3 separate regions of the Homo sapiens genome follow, and all the other regions are reported to be linked to region 1. The links are microRNA targets in miRTarBase. Many come from high-throughput screens and were not tested one by one. Region 1 holds a microRNA gene; each other region holds the end of a gene's coding sequence.
What was found. The annotated mature microRNA hsa-miR-3132 reads UGGGUAGAGAAGGAGCUCAGAGGA and lies in region 1 at 2,462-2,485, opposite strand. An mRNA with a match to its seed (bases 2 to 7 or 8) in the 3' UTR can be bound and repressed. Matches are read on the target gene's strand: a 7mer-m8 pairs with bases 2 to 8, a 7mer-A1 pairs with bases 2 to 7 and ends in A, and an 8mer does both.

Region 2: the mRNA of GNL1 is a reported target of hsa-miR-3132. Seed matches in the 3' UTR shown: 8mer at 1,348-1,355.
Region 3: miRTarBase lists IGSF8 as a target of hsa-miR-3132. Seed matches in the 3' UTR shown: 7mer-A1 at 943-949.

Annotation. Positions count from the first base shown.
Region 1 is chr2:219,546,656-219,551,765 of GRCh38, forward strand. It overlaps MIR3132 (microRNA 3132), which reads right to left and starts at 2,492; the gene lies at 2,418-2,492. TMEM198 (transmembrane protein 198) reads left to right here. Exons shown (of 5, transcript NM_001005209.3): 3 at 851-1,426; 4 at 2,497-2,699; 5 at 3,062-3,940. The coding sequence ends at 3,199. OBSL1 (obscurin like cytoskeletal adaptor 1) reads right to left here. Exons shown (of 21, transcript NM_015311.3): 20 at 4,874-5,110; 21 at 4,073-4,187. The coding sequence ends at 4,180.
Region 2 is chr6:30,542,043-30,547,152 of GRCh38, reverse strand. It overlaps GNL1 (G protein nucleolar 1 (putative)), which reads left to right. Exons shown (of 12, transcript NM_005275.5): 10 at 1-41; 11 at 317-457; 12 at 840-5,110. The coding sequence ends at 1,081. Among named protein-coding and RNA genes, the nearest start is that of GNL1, 12 kb to the left of the region's middle.
Region 3 is chr1:160,087,335-160,092,444 of GRCh38, reverse strand. IGSF8 (immunoglobulin superfamily member 8) reads left to right here. Exons shown (of 7, transcript NM_052868.6): 5 at 1-163; 6 at 507-637; 7 at 837-1,102. The coding sequence ends at 622. KCNJ9 (potassium inwardly rectifying channel subfamily J member 9) reads right to left here. Exons shown (of 3, transcript NM_004983.3): 3 at 1,882-4,959. The coding sequence ends at 4,628. Among named protein-coding and RNA genes, the nearest start is that of KCNJ9, 8.4 kb to the right of the region's middle.

The DNA of each region.
Region 1 (5,110 bases):
TCCCCAGTAATGCTGCTACTCTGTCCTCTTTGTAACCTTTCAGTGGTGCCATTATCTCTGAAGCCCTGTGACCCCCAAAGACTCATCTTTCTGAACCTGTGTGACCCTCACCTCTCAAGTTTCTTTTTTTTTTTTTTTTTGAGACAAGAGTCTCGCTCTGTCACCCAGGCTGGAATGCAATGGTGCGATCTTGGTGCACTGCAACCTCTGCCTCCTGGGTTCAAGCGATTCTCCTGCCTCAGCCTCCTGAGTAGCTGGGATTACAGGTGCGTGCCACCATGCCCGGCTAATTTTTCGTATTTTTAGTAGAGACGGGGTTTCACCGCGTTGGTCAGGCTGGTCTCAAACTCCTGACCTCATGATTCACCCGCCTTGGCCTCCCATAGTGCTGCCACCACGCCCGGCCCTCGAGTTTATTATGATTTCCAAATACCTCATCTCTGTGAGCAATCCCTTCTCAAAGACCCCAATGACTCTTTTTCTGATCCCCTTGGGACCCCAGTGACTTCTCTCTCTGACTCCTATGATCCCAAAGACACCAATGCACGAATTCACTCTTGACTCAAAAGATTTATCCTAACTCCTGTGATCCTCAAATACATCAACCCTCATGATCTCAATGGTTATGTTTGCCTTCCCATTGACCACCAACAGCCATATCTCTCTAACCTCCCCTGACCTCAATGGCCCCATCACTGATGCCGTCATGACTCCAGTGACCCTCAATTCTCTGATCTTAGTGTCTTTGTCTCTGGTTCCCCTGGGATCCCATGTCCTTGACCCCTTGGACCTGCTCCCTCCAGCCTGGTGCCCTCATCTTGGCCCCTCACTAGCCCCTGTTCCCCTCCAGGTTACCGCTGCTTCAAGGCAGTGCTCTTTCTCACTGGGTTGCTGTTTGGCTCGGTGGTCATCTTCCTCCTCTGCTACCGAGAGCGGGTGCTAGAGACACAGCTGAGTGCTGGGGCGAGCGCGGGCATCGCTCTGGGCATCGGGCTGCTCTGCGGGCTGGTGGCCATGCTAGTGCGCAGCGTGGGCCTCTTCCTGGTGGGGCTGCTGCTCGGCCTGCTGCTCGCAGCTGCTGCCCTGCTGGGCTCCGCACCCTACTACCAGCCAGGCTCCGTGTGGGGTCCACTGGGGCTGTTGCTGGGGGGCGGCCTGCTCTGTGCCCTGCTCACTCTGCGCTGGCCCCGCCCACTCACCACCCTGGCCACCGCCGTGACTGGTGCTGCGCTGATCGCCACTGCCGCTGACTACTTCGCCGAGCTGCTACTGCTGGGGCGCTACGTGGTGGAGCGACTCCGGGCTGCTCCTGTGCCCCCACTCTGCTGGCGAAGCTGGGCCCTGCTGGCACTCTGGCCCCTGCTCAGCCTGATGGGCGTTCTGGTGCAGTGGAGGGTGACAGCTGAGGGGGACTCCCACACGGAAGGTAAGGGGGCACAGGCCAAGGTGGACATGAGAGGAGTGGGTGGCCAGGGATGGGTTGGGGGCCAAGTGACTGGGGAGTGGGGGACAGCAGCAGAAGGCCTCGATGGCGGTAGAGAGCTGACTTGCTCAGGGTCTGGGAGGATAGCACCCAGGTGCCATCATTCATTCCACAACAACATATGGAGTGCTGGCTCCGCACCAACCCCATTCCAGGCACCAGGGATACAGCAGAGATAACACAGACAAGGTTCCTGTCCTTATGGATTCAAGGCAGGCAGGAGACAGATAACAGAGATGCAAACAAACATGATTCCAGTTGTGTAGAGTGATATGACAGAGACATTGTGCAGGATAATGTGAAAGAATGACCTATGGAAGCTATTAGAGTTAGGGTGGTCAGGGAAGGCTGCTTGAAGGAGGTGATATGTAAGCAGGCACTTGAAGGCTAAGGGGCCAGCCATGCAAAGAGCTAGAGAAGAGGGAACAGCAAGGGCGAGGGCCCTGAGAAGGAATGAGCTCAGCTTGCTTGAGGAAGTGGGGCAGGAGTATGGGAGGTGAGGTGTGGGAGCCAGAGTGATTGCGTGGACCCTCTGGGTCATAAGAAGCACTCCACATTTTATTAGAAGGGCAATAAGACTTTAAACCACTGGAGAGTTTAAAGTAGGGGAGGATAGAATCTAATTTAGCTTTTGGGATGCTCATTCTGCTGCCGAGTGTAGAAAGCATTGGAGGGAGCAAGTGTAGGGGGAAACCAGTGAAGAAGCAGCTGTGATTGTCCAGTGGAAAGATGATGATGGCTGGCCTAGGTGATTGGGAGAGGGATGACAGCCTGGAAGGGGGTACCTGGAAGCCTAGCAACCTTCCATAAAGACCTATGGAAGAAAAGAACAACAGCGGGAAGTCTCCTCTGAGAGGTAGGAGACCAGGAAAGGAAGTGACAGGGTGGGAGTAAGGGGTTATGGACAAGAGGAATCTGGAAGCCTAGAGCCACAGGTGGGATGAGAGAGGGAGGGCTCAAGGGAAACAAGGCGCACCGTCCTCTGAGCTCCTTCTCTACCCATCCCACCACAGTGGTCATCAGCCGGCAGCGCCGACGCGTGCAACTGATGCGGATTCGGCAGCAGGAAGATCGCAAGGAGAAAAGGCGGAAAAAGAGACCTCCTCGGGCTCCCCTCAGAGGTCCCCGGGCTCCTCCCAGGCCTGGGCCACCAGACCCTGCTTATCGGCGCAGGCCAGTGCCCATCAAACGCTTCAATGGAGACGTCCTCTCCCCGGTGAGCTCCCTGAGCCCATCCAGCCAGAATGAGAAGGAAGTGTGGAAACTCTTTCCAAACAGGACTGGGCTTTCCCCACGGGCTGGTTGCTATCTAGAAGGCCTGTTTGTCCATGAACTGTTTGTCCATGCATCGGAGCCCATGCACCAGGGGCTTGGCGGGTCCAGCTGGTGGGGGAATTGGGGGAAAGGTTCCTGAGTATGGGTTTTAAGTGGGATATGGTATGTGGTGGGGTCTCAGGGCTGTGGACTCTGGGTCTATGGCAGTCTATAGAAGTGTCAGGCTTGTGGGAATTCAGGAAGAGGTGGCTTTTAGGGCAGGATTCTGCGGTGGGACTCACACCTATGTTTGCTCCCCCACAGAGCTATATCCAGAGCTTCCGAGACCGGCAGACCGGGAGCTCCCTGAGCTCCTTCATGGCCTCACCCACAGATGCGGACTATGAGTATGGGTCCCGGGGACCTCTGACAGCCTGCTCAGGCCCCCCAGTGCGGGTATAGCCATATCTGTCTGTCTAGACTCTGCAGTCACCAGCTCTGCCAGCTCGAGGAGGCCTGCTAGGCTGCCACTCAGCCTCCTGGCTTTGGCTGTCCCTCTCCCCAGCCTGGAGAGGGCTGGCCTGGTCACTAGAAGGGAGGATTGTCTCAGGCGAGTCTTGGCCTGAGAGGAAAGCCCCCTCCCAAGCTCCCAAGAGGCTCCTGAGGAACTCGGGGTGTGAACCCCATTGGGGTGTGCTCAGGGTTGTGAGTGTGTTGCCCGTGTGTCTGTGTGTATGTGTGTGGGGGTGGGCAGGCTTGGAGGGGACGCTGGGACCCTTGCCTTAGATTTCTGACTGGTAGGGTTTCTCCAGGCTCAGCCCCACCTCTTCACTCCCTGCCAAGGTCCCATGGGCCACCTCCTGCATGTCTCCGCGGAGGGGCTACCTTCCTTCCCATCGCCCTGCCTCGCAGCCAGACTCATCTAAGGGTTCTTGTCCTTGTCTATGGGGCAAACTGTAGCATCCCTCACCCTGGTCCCCTGGCCTCTGTAAAGCCACCAGCCTGAGGGCAGTGGCAGGAGATGGGGGTGGGGGGGTGCTGCTCTGGGCTGGGTTGGGAAGGGAGTTGGGGAGGGGTTTAAATGCACGGTGCATGTCTGGTGTCTGTCATGCCAACCTAGACACCTCATGCTTCTGTCTCCCCCACCCCACTCTGTTTTACATCTTTTATAAATGTGCCAAACTGTGTGGCCTCTGCCAGGAATGGTGGTCTTTGGTGGCTGGCACTTTCATGGGCCAGGTACAAGCACTACAGCCCTCGGTCCCCAGTGTCGCTCACTGCACAGGGGCTCCAGGCAAGGTCTGCCCCCCCACATCACTCAGAGAGGCAAGGAAATGAGCTGTAGCACTTTTATTGTTCCTTGTCTCTCTACCCCTGCCCAGGGTAAGGGCAAACGCCTTCCAAGCTGTCCAAGGGCACCCGCCTGGCCTGGTTAGGTTCTCCTAGTTGCCTGCAGAGGAATGACTCCACATGGGGCTGGGGAGAGAAGGGGGTACCACCTTCCTCTCCCCTGGCAGAGCCTGGACACCAGTACACAAAGAGCTGGGCCCCCAGGTTCTGCCCTACCCTTTCTGGGCCTTGGTTAGGGCTGTCTTGGCGGCAGGAAGGTGGGGGTCAGCTAGGGGTGGGGCACAGCGCGGCACCTGAAGGGAATGCTGGGATTTGGGATAGAAGGTGGGATGTCTCTTATGGGGAAGAGGAAAGAAAGAGGCTTCTGCCAAGGCTGACATGGAACTTGCTGAGATGGGCAGAGGCAAGCTGGGCAGAGGGCAGGAAGGAGGAGGGACAGGCTGGAGGAAGGCAGTGTTGGTGAAGTGGGGAGGAAAGGAACTGGTAGAAACAGGGCTGTTCAAGAGAGACAAACATGGTCCAGTGGCAGGAGAGAGGAGAAGCCTGGCAAGAAGGGGCGTAGAAAGGTGGGAACAGCTGACCAGGAGCAGCTGATCTGAGCCAAGCAGTTCCAGGGCTTTCCAGCCCTGGGTGTGCTCTACCCCTCCCCTCCCCCATCCCCACCTCCTACGTATCCCAGGACCCGTTGCCACCCCAAGTTCTGGAAAGCCTCCCATAGGTGTGGCTTAACCCATCAGCTCCCAGGCGCCCTCACCCTCCTGCCGCTGCCCAGTTGGCTTTACTCACCCTCTACCAGCAGCCGTGTGTGGGTGCTGTCCTGGCCGGCCTGGCAGCAGTAAGTGCCTTGGTCCTCAGGTCGAACGTCATGGATGACCAGGCTGTGGGTGGGGCCGTGGCTGCGCATCTCATACTTATCTCCCGGGCACAGCTCGGCCCCCTCCCGCAGCCAGCACACGTGGCCCCCCGAGCGGGACACAGTCACCTCCAGCACCGCCCGGCGGCCCACCAGAACGGTCTTCTCGC
Region 2 (5,110 bases), not on the chromosome of region 1:
CTCAGCGGAACACCCCTGGTGTGCCTGGGACATCTGTGAAGGTGAGTTCCATGTGCCTGGCTTCGCCCCACCTGGTTTCAGCTGCTCTTCCTTACCTGCCTCGCCTTTTACCCTTCCCTGTCTCCTTTCCTCTCCTCAGAGATTCTGCCATTGATGAAGCTGCTGTCCACTCACCCCTAGATTTTTGTTGCATAGCCAGTAAGATCTCTGGCCTGGAATGTTTTGGGGAAAACTGGAAGGACTGTGTTATGGGAGTGGGAGTATAACTGGTACCTGGTTAATGCTTTCCCTTTCCATTATTCTTTTCTTCCTCCAGCCTGGGCAGAGAAACGTGGTTACAAGACAGCCAAGGCGGCTCGGAATGATGTGTACAGAGCAGCCAACAGTCTCTTGCGGCTGGCAGTGGACGGCCGCCTCAGCCTGTGTTTTCATCCCCCAGGCTACAGTGAACAGAAAGGTCAGAGCCCAGATATTCTTCCCCAGCCCCCTGCTATAGCGTAGGTAAAAGGGTGTGGGCTTTGTGGCCAGAGAGAGGGTCAAACCTGGATTCTGTACCTGTTGGCTAGCTCTGTTACTTAACATCTGTGATATTTTCCTGATCTGCAAACTGAGGGTAATAATTGACCCTTAGCATAGTGATTGTAAAGATTGAAGTTGATGTGCACAAAGGTTCTGTTCAGCAATCTGCACATAGGAAGTTGAATGAATGGATGAATGAATGAATGCCAGCAGCTCTAAAGATTATTGTTATTCCTAGTCTTTGCCTCTTCCCCATCTTTCCTTGGCTTTAGTTCTTGCTCAAAACTCTCCTCCATTTTTTTCTTGTTTTGGTTCCCCAGGCACCTGGGAGTCCCATCCAGAGACCACGGAGCTGGTGGTTTTGCAGGGCAGGGTGGGGCCAGCAGGTGACGAGGAGGAGGAGGAAGAGGAAGAGCTGAGCAGCTCCTGTGAGGAGGAGGGAGAGGAGGACCGGGATGCGGATGAGGAGGGAGAAGGGGATGAGGAGACCCCAACCTCGGCTCCAGGGTCCAGCCTGGCTGGCCGAAACCCTTATGCCCTGCTGGGTGAGGATGAGTGCTGAGTTCCTCGCCCAGCGCCATCTTCCCTCCCAGTATCTTTGCTTTTGGACTGACCTGGGGGTATCTCCCCTCTGCCACCCCAATTGTGAATAAAGATTGTTTGCTTTGTAGCCCCTTCCCCAGATGAACTGAGGTGAGAGCGGCTGTTCCAGGCTAACAGCTGTGGGAGGCTTCTCTCCTCTTCTCCCTTCTTTTTTCATGCATTCTCTTTGCAAGGGAAAGTTCTCTTAGGAGTTTAGTAGGTTCTCAGTCTCTGAAACCTGCTTCCTCTACCCATTCTCCCACTCTGCACCTTAGGAATCCCGTTATCTACATGGGGAGGGGAGGTCTAAATCCAGCTCCCTTTTGGAGTTTGTGCCATTCTCCGATTTGAGCAGCAGCCCTGTGTGCCCCCTGCCGCCAGACCTGCTCATTCCAGGAGCTTCTGGGAGAAGGAACAGTAAGAGAGGAACTGTGTCCCAAGCTGATGTCTCTTAATGAGATTTTTACAGGAATTGTTCAAATTCAGCAAATATTTATTGAGGGTCTATTGTGTGTCTTGACCTGTGCTGAGCACCAAGCATATAAGGATGTACCACCAGAGCCTGACCTAAATTTGAAGCCTGGCCATGATCAAAACCCCACCTTCAGGCACCCAAGTTTTTGGATTAAGAAGGGTGAATGATGTTCTCCAAATCCTGGGGGCTCATGCAGTATAATTCTAGGACTTCATGTTGATACAAATTTTTAGTTAAGGCAAAACGCTTGTGAAAATGTTGATTAAATGTGTACGAGTAGTTTTAATTACTGGTGAACAACTAGCGTGCACATTTATGATTTGAGCAGAACAGCCCTTTAAGTACAGTGTTAAGTTTCATTGTTTAAAAGCTTGGCAGCTACGAGTATTTGAGGTACATAGGGGCGGGCACAGAACCAGCCTCCTGAATTCCATTTACTCTGGTTTGGGGGTGGAACAAAGATGATCCAGTGCAGGGTCTGAGCTAGAACCTAGCAGGTGGCCAGAACCATTTTAGGGTTTCACCTCAGCATTTCGGCAGAAATCAGCTCTCTCGTGAGTCAGGGCACCTTAGGCTTTGCTGTATATCCCTTTGTTAAGCCAGCAGCTAGACTCCTAGATTGAATTCTTTTAGAAATGGGAGAATGAGCTTTTTTATTGACTGCCAGTGTTGTCTGTATTGGATGATAGCAAAAAGTGTAGTTGGACAGGTTGCCCACTAGATGGAGTGAGAAGTACCAGACTCCTTTTTTCTCTAAAGCAGATCCTTTCAGGATCTGAGTCACTGGGCAGTTTCTCTAATGCGAGCAGACAGACCCTGTTAACCAAGGAGCAAAGGAAAGTATATTTAAAGAGGCTAAGGTGTTTGGCCACATATTGCTTTAGGTTCATCTCCATTGGTCTCAGTGTGGACATAACTCCTGGAATTCACTCCAGTGCAAAGTTTAAATAATACCAGCATGAGAATGTACTTGAAGGTTTCCCAAAATGTGCTAGACAAGAAAGAGAAAAGGTCCCAGCTGAGAGAAAAATCCACCTGTCTCCCATCTGGGGCTCTTTGGCCTCACTGATAGAAAAGGAAAAGGGGCCCAAGCTAAGCTTACTTTGAGGGTTCATGATGTTCAGAGATGCTCAGGGGACTTCTCCGCTGCAGGAGGTGGGGTGAGGACATTGGATTCATTTCCTCAAAATATGGAGAGAAAGGAGAAAAATCAGAATTCTATTTGTACCTCTGCTTCCTGTGCTGTTTATCTTTGCTTGTCTTTATCTTTTTCCACCTCAGGGGTTTCATCAGGGGTATTTGGGAGAGTCTAGGGGTGGGGATGAAGAATTGACTGGGAGCTGAGGAGGGGGGATTTTTATGCTGAAGACCTGGCAGGAGGCAACTCCTGACACCCCCACAGGGTTAGACTGTAAAACCTCTTCCATGACTTGCTGACTCTATAGGATAATAGCAACAGGAAAAGAACTGAGGGACGTGCAGATGAGGATGAATAGGGCCCCAACACCAGTGCCTGAGGCTGAGGTTAGAACTGACTACAAAGACACAGGAAACCAAGGGCCCAGTCTCCCCTCCACGCTGAAATACGCACCCTCTTGTCTGGGTCATGTCTACTATGTGAATACTTGACCATGGAGGTCTGGGGCTCTGGTGGCTTCCATAGCTGGCTAGTCTCTTGATGGAGAGAAATCAGGGCTTCTCTCATCCATGCTGGAATTTCATTTAGATGTCAACTTCCAAGTTTCCCTTTTTCCAGATGGGATTATAGTCCTGCTTCTGGAACAGGGTAGCTGTGTGTGGTCCAGGATAGTTCAATTATCTGGCCCTTTGTTCACTTCTTACAATCATTGATACAGTCAACAAAAATTGGTTAAAAACAATATATGCCAGACATATATCCCTGAGTTCTGGGACAATAACCAAAATTGAATAAGGCAATATCCTACTCTCAAGCAATAGAGGGTAGGAATAGAATAATAATAATATAATACAATAGCTCTATAGCAGTATGTAAACTATAAAAGCATTATTTTACGTGTTTCTATTGAACTGTCATAACTAAATAAGATGGTTAGTACTATAATTATCCCAAGGATTCATTCACTCATAGAACATTTGTTGAGCAATTACTACCTGCCAGTCACTTCCAAGTGGTAAGTGAGATAGAAATGGTTCTTTGTGGCGCTCACAATTTATTGGAGAATGGAAACACAATTACAAAAAAAAAGTGTGATAAGTTCTGGGAGAAGGGTGGTACAGGATCCTGTGGGGTAGTGGTGGCTCCATATAGGAGGGACATTGGGATACTGATCAGGAAGGAGTGGGGGACAGGGCTAGAAGCTGCATTAGTATAAAGTTATGTCAGACTGCCAAAACAAAACAAACACAAAAAATCAGTAGTCTGTGGTAAAGAATTGCTATAGGAACAGCCAGTAGGGGCAGTTAAGCTGGTCTTGGTGAATCAGGGGAAGCGTCCTAGAGGAACAGATGTCCATGCTGAGGCCAAATGCTGGACAGGAGTTAGCCAGACAGGGAAATTGCATTCTGGGCAGAGGAGACAGCAAAGGTCAAGAAACATGACAACTTTGGAAGACTGTAACTTGTTCAGAGGCAGAGGGTGCAAAGGAGAAATGAGGAAAGGTGAAGCTGGAGAGGTGGGCTTGGTCCAGCTCTTGCTGGGCCTTTTCAGCCGTGTTAAAGATTTAGACTGTATCCAGAGGGATGTTGAACTTTAAGCCTAAGACTGAAAAGGTGAGAATTGTGCCTTAGATCACTATGGTTGCAGTGTGGAGACTGGTTTGGAAAGGGGAGAAATCAGAGGCTTTTACAGCCATCCCAGGGAGAGAGAATGAACACCAGAATTAGGGTAATGGAAGATGGAAAGAAGAGAAATCGTTTTATGGGTTGCTCAGGAGATAGAATTGACATGTCTTGGGATTGTTTTGCTGTGTAGGGGAGAGAGACAAGTCAAGAGTATACATCCTGTTTCTGACTTGGCAACTGGGTGGGTCATGGGTCTGTTTCCTGAGACAGTTGTCTACAGCCATACCACCGTAAGCGCCCTAAATCTCATCAGAGACAGTTTATGCAAATGGAGCTTGGGGAAAGAGAGGTCGTGGCTGGAGACAGAGATTTGGGCATCATCAACATATAGGTGTGGGGAGCAGAGAAGGCTGAGGAAGAAAGCAGGAAACATATAAAAAGGAGAGCAGGGAAAGGAGCCAGTGAGACAGGAAAAACCTAGTAACGTGGTGTGATGAAGCTAGGGGAGGAAGGAAGGAAGGAAGGGCGGCGTGGAACGCTGCTGATGGGTGGTGGCGGGGAAAATGAACGAGTATCCACCAGCAACGAGAGGGGCCTCCATGGTCTTGGTGGGAGCATTTCTTTGGAGAGGTGGAATCAGAAGCCCCAGATGTCAGAGGGTTAAGGAATAATTTGGAGGAAAAGCGTAAAGGCAGTGGAGGTGAGGAGAGAATTTTCAAAATGTTTGGCAGTGATTGCAATGAAAGAAAAAAATGGAGGGAGCAGAGTATA
Region 3 (5,110 bases), not on the chromosome of region 1:
GTGGGGCCCCGAAGCCATCGGCTGAGACTACACAGCTTGGGGCCCGAGGATGAAGGCGTGTACCACTGTGCCCCCAGCGCCTGGGTGCAGCATGCCGACTACAGCTGGTACCAGGCGGGCAGTGCCCGCTCAGGGCCTGTTACAGTCTACCCCTACATGCATGGTGAGTGACACCCCCTCCACCCTCCTCACTCTGCCTTCCTCCTGGCCTCTGCCACTGGCCTTCCCTTCCCATCTTCTGACCCTCCTGCTACTATCTCTCTCCTCCACATTATGTCACATGAAGTCTCAAAAAATCCAACTTCCAGCCCTGCAGTGCCCACCTGCACGGGGTCCTCTGTGGTTGATGCTGACTTGCATGCTGAGGGGGCAGGCTGTGGGCAGGGATGGGGGTGTCTGTGAATGGAGAAGGTGGGTTCAGAGAACTTGATGGGGAAAGCGCAGAGGCAAGTGTATGGGTGGAGGATGATGGCATCCTCTCTGAACAGTCATCCTCTCTCCCCCAGCCCTGGACACCCTATTTGTGCCTCTGCTGGTGGGTACAGGGGTGGCCCTAGTCACTGGTGCCACTGTCCTTGGTACCATCACTTGCTGCTTCATGAAGAGGCTTCGAAAACGGTGATCCCTTACTCCCCAGGTGAGGGAAAAGAACCCCCCAACCTTGTTTTCATTGGGCTTCCCACCCCCAAGTCCTGAACCAAGCTGCTCCCTCCCAGGCCCCACCTGGAGGAGGAGTAGGCAGCTCAGATCCACAGGGCCCTGTTAAGGGGTGGAGGCCGCGAGGGAGCCCCACTCAGGGCTCTCTGTCCTTAGCCCACACCGGGCACCCTTTTCAGGTCTTGCAGGTGTCGACTGTCTTCCGGCCCAGCTCCAAGCCCTCCTCTGGTTGCCTGGACACCCTCTCCCTCTGTCCACTCTTCCTTTAATTTATTTGACCTCCCACTACCCAGAATGGGAGACGTGCCTCCCCTTCCCCACTCCTTCCCTCCCAAGCCCCTCCCTCTGGCCTTCTGTTCTTGATCTCTTAGGGATCCTATAGGGAGGCCATTTCCTGTCCTGGAATTAGTTTTTCTAAAATGTGAATAAACTTGTTTTATAAAAAGCAGGCTTGGCTGTGTCTTCCCTACCATGAGACTGTAAAACGCTCAGGGTGCATAGTAGGGAGGTGGTTGGGGATTGACAACCTATTCTGGATGACCCAGGCCTCTCTTCCCACCACAAACACCATCTGGCCTCCATGGGCCATGCCACCCACCCCAGGAGGGGACACCTGGGTTCCATCTGCAGCCTGAACTGTCGGGGCTGAGACAACTCCTGATTGGACTCCTACTTGGGGAGGGAAGCATAGAAAAGGAGGGTAGGTTCCAGCTGCCTGTGGTCACCCCCGCACCAGCTTCTCCCATGTTAAAGGGCATGGGCCTCCAGGGGCAGTGCCTTTTCTGAGCTTCCCAGACTTTCCCCAACTCTTCCCACGTCTCATTCTCCTGGTCAGGCTAGTCTTGGACCTGACTCCTCCCACTAGGCCCTGGGGCTGAAATTGTTGTTCCTTCTGACCCATAGCAGCAGAATAGAAGCCTCAGAACACAACTGATACTCAGGCTGGGACAACAGGCAGTCAGGGGAGGGCCTGTGTGTCCACAGAGCCATTGCACCCACATGTACTCGCTGTACCTGCATATACCCTCTACCCGCATATACCCACTACACCTGCATATACCCGCTTCACCTGCCTGTACCTACCCTGGGGTCTCCTCCCTCCCACCCTTCAGCTTCACCCCTCCTCCAGTGCCCCAGGAGTTTCATGAATTTTCTTGCCTAAGGATTCTCTGATCCTAAAATTCTTACCTGCACGGCACCTTAAGAGGCATCTGGCAGGCCTCCTTCAGTTGTTATTTAAACATTTATTGAGCATTACGAGTTTGCTGTCATTTTTACAGATGAGGAAACTGAGGCCCAGATATGCGATTTGCCCAGAGTCATAGAGCTAATTAGCAAGTGTCAGGAGTAGGACCTAGGTCTCCTGACTTGTTGCACTGTACAGTGGTGCCCTGAGTGGTGACAGTGGCGAGGAGAGGTGTGGCAGGGTCTCAGTGACTTCAGCAGGCAGGAGGGGCCTTTCCAGACTGAGTTTCTCTGCTTGTTCAGCTGCAATGGGTTGGCTCCTGTGTGAGTGCGTGTGTGTGGATACCAAGTAGCCCACCCGCTCTTGTCCAGACCCCCCTGTTTTACTGAAACCCAAATGAATCCCCATTCTCCATCCCAACATCTGTTCTTAGGGGACCAGTCAATGCCAGGCTTCAGGAATCTCATCTTTGATGACAGGGCCCCAGTGGCCCTGTGACCTGAGGCAAAGATATCCGTGTTTTGACTGAAAGGAAGGGACTGGGACTTGGGTCCTCTCTGAGTGAACCCCAGCTGTCTGGGCTGCTTCCATGGCCCCCTTTCTTGCTTCCAGAGGACCCATAGGGCCCTGGCTATGCCCATAGGACCCTGGCTGTGCCCCATAGGACCCTATCTGCCCAGCCTGGAACAGAGAAGACTGGAGTGCTTTCCCCAGGGGGCTTATGAAAGGGCAGGAGTGGGATGTGGCCAGGGCCAAGGGAGGAGGTCCTTGCTGGGCCAGTGCTGCTGTGTGGGAGACAGGCGCTGTCCCAGGGCAGGCTCTCCTGGGCCTATGCTTTTCTCCAGGCCAGCTTCAGGTCCCTTCCACCCCTCTGCCTCTCTCAACTTGCAGTTGTTCTCCCTCACTATCCAGGAAGCTGCCGCTGGTGACTGGGATGTGATCAGGAAGCAGGTGGAGGTGGGGTGAGAATATGCGTCTTTGGGACCCCCTGGCCCAATTGGGCTGACAGCAGGCTGCAGACACATCCAGATGTTCTAACTCCTATCGCTTCTCTCCGATTTTCTCCCACATTCAATCTTGCCTCCAGTCCTACAAGGGGTTCTGTCCTTTGCCCCTAAAACTCTTCCTGCTCCACCTCCCCCCGACCTCCCCAGGAGCCCCCTCAAGTCCTTCTGATGGCTTCATCTCTCTGTCGGGCCTGCTCAGCTTCCAGACACCCCCTCCACTTGTCACTGCCCTGTTTCCATTGATGGTTGAGTTTCTGGGCCCAAAGTTAAACTCTTCAGCCTGGGCTTCGGGTCCCTTTCCCACACATAAAACCCCACCCTTCACATTTCTCTGTCTGCTCCTGTGAGGATCCTCAGCTTCTTCTCAGCTTCTCTTCATCTTCCTCTCAGCTACTCCTCAGTTTCTATGCCCCATGTCCTGAAACGACTTCCAAGTATTCACTTAGAGCACAGGTTCTCAAAGTGTGGTCCTCAGTCCAGCAACAGCAGCATGACCTGGGGACTTCTTAGGAATGCATGGTTTTGGTCCCCACCTCTTGGGTCAGAAACCCTTGGAGTGGAGCCCAAAAATCTGTGTTTTACCAAGCCCTCCAGGTGATTCCAACGCACACTGGAGATTTCTAACTCCTGACTTACATATTCCCTATGCCTTACACTGGCCCCAGCCTTCTGATCACCCACACTCCCCTACCCTCCACGGGACTGCACAGGTTGTCAGTTTGAATTATCCCTCGTTCAGTCACCACAGGTAGATTCCTCTGTTTTCCCAGGTGCCCCTTATTTTGAGGACAGGAACCAGGTTTTTGAATGTCCACTCCACATGGCACCCAATCAGTGATGTGAATGACTGTGCCCCAAGGACACACTGCTTTCCTAGGGGCTCCCTGTTTCCCAGCTCTAGTGAACCCACTTTCTAGATCTCTCTCCTGGCCCTTCCTCCCCAGAACCTCTCTCTCTCTCTTCCTGCCTGTGCCTGATACCTGTAAGATCTCACTCCACTGTAAGAAAATAGCTATCCCTGGTTTTCCTTTCCCAGGCCCCTCTCCAGGCCCCAGCTCAGGCACCTCCCCGCTCTGCCTGCTTCCCTGAACTTGCGGACTAAGGTCATTCACACCTTGCTGAGCCCCTTGCACGCCTTCATCCTGGTGAGGGTGGAGCTAGGAGGGCACCCTCCTCATGTGCCCATCTTGGTCCGGCTCCTTTCTCCTTCACTTCAGCTTGGCCTACCGTGTCATTAGACAGTTGTGCCATATGTGGGGAGGCTGGCAGAAGAGGTGACTGGGGACTGCAATCCATCCTATACTCTGCTCCCCAAGCCATGCACCCTGGTTTGGGGCTGTATCTGTCTGGAGGAAAAGGGTTCCTTTTTAAAATTTGCACAGGGGTGTTCTACAGGTTAGTGGCAGCCCTGAGTGGACCAGTTGTCTACTGGTCCATCTATGTATCTGTCAGCTGTCTTTATCTGCTACCATCTTCCCATCCAACCCCCAAAAGTCCATCATTCTGTCCATCCATCCACTCATGAACAAATGTGAAGGTCAAACACAGACTGGCATTTTCACCCGGCCCCACCCTCCATTTCCCTGAAATCAGGACCCCTCCCTTCCATACTGGTTTCTAGACTTGAGGTTCTGGGGGACGGGGACTTTCCAACTTTAGCACATTTCCAGGGGCTTTGCCTTCCTCCTCCTCCTCCTCCTCCACCACCTCCGATATGCAGTTCCCCATGTATCTGTGTCTGGCCCCCGGTCTGCCACAGGGGTCTGGAGGAAGCTGGTCACACCTTGGACTCACTCTCTGGGGGTGGCAGGCAGCCATTCTGCTCCTTGTCAGCCCCAGCTTCCCCACCCGCCCCCTCCCCCGCCCCCTCCTCCTCCACCTTCTCATCCAGCCGGCTGGGGATGGACCAGTAGAGATGGGCATCAAGGCGGGCGGCAGCCTCTGCCAGCTCTCGAGCACTGCACGAAGGTGTGGGCACCTCAAAAGTCTCGTGAAAGCTGGCATAGTCCACTTCGTAGAAGCCGTCCTCCAGAGTCAGCACTGACGTGAAGCGGTGGCCCCACAGCACCTCGTCTACCAGGTAGGAGCTCCGAGCTTGGCATGTCATTCCTGGGAGGAGGGGCACCGGTCAGGGGGAATCTCAGCTCCAGGCTTCCCTCTCCTCTTCTCATTCCACAACCCTACTCCCAGCACCCTCCCTTCTATTCCTTCCTAAGGGCTCCCACCTCCCTTTGGTCCAGTCCATTTCCCCCCCTCCCTA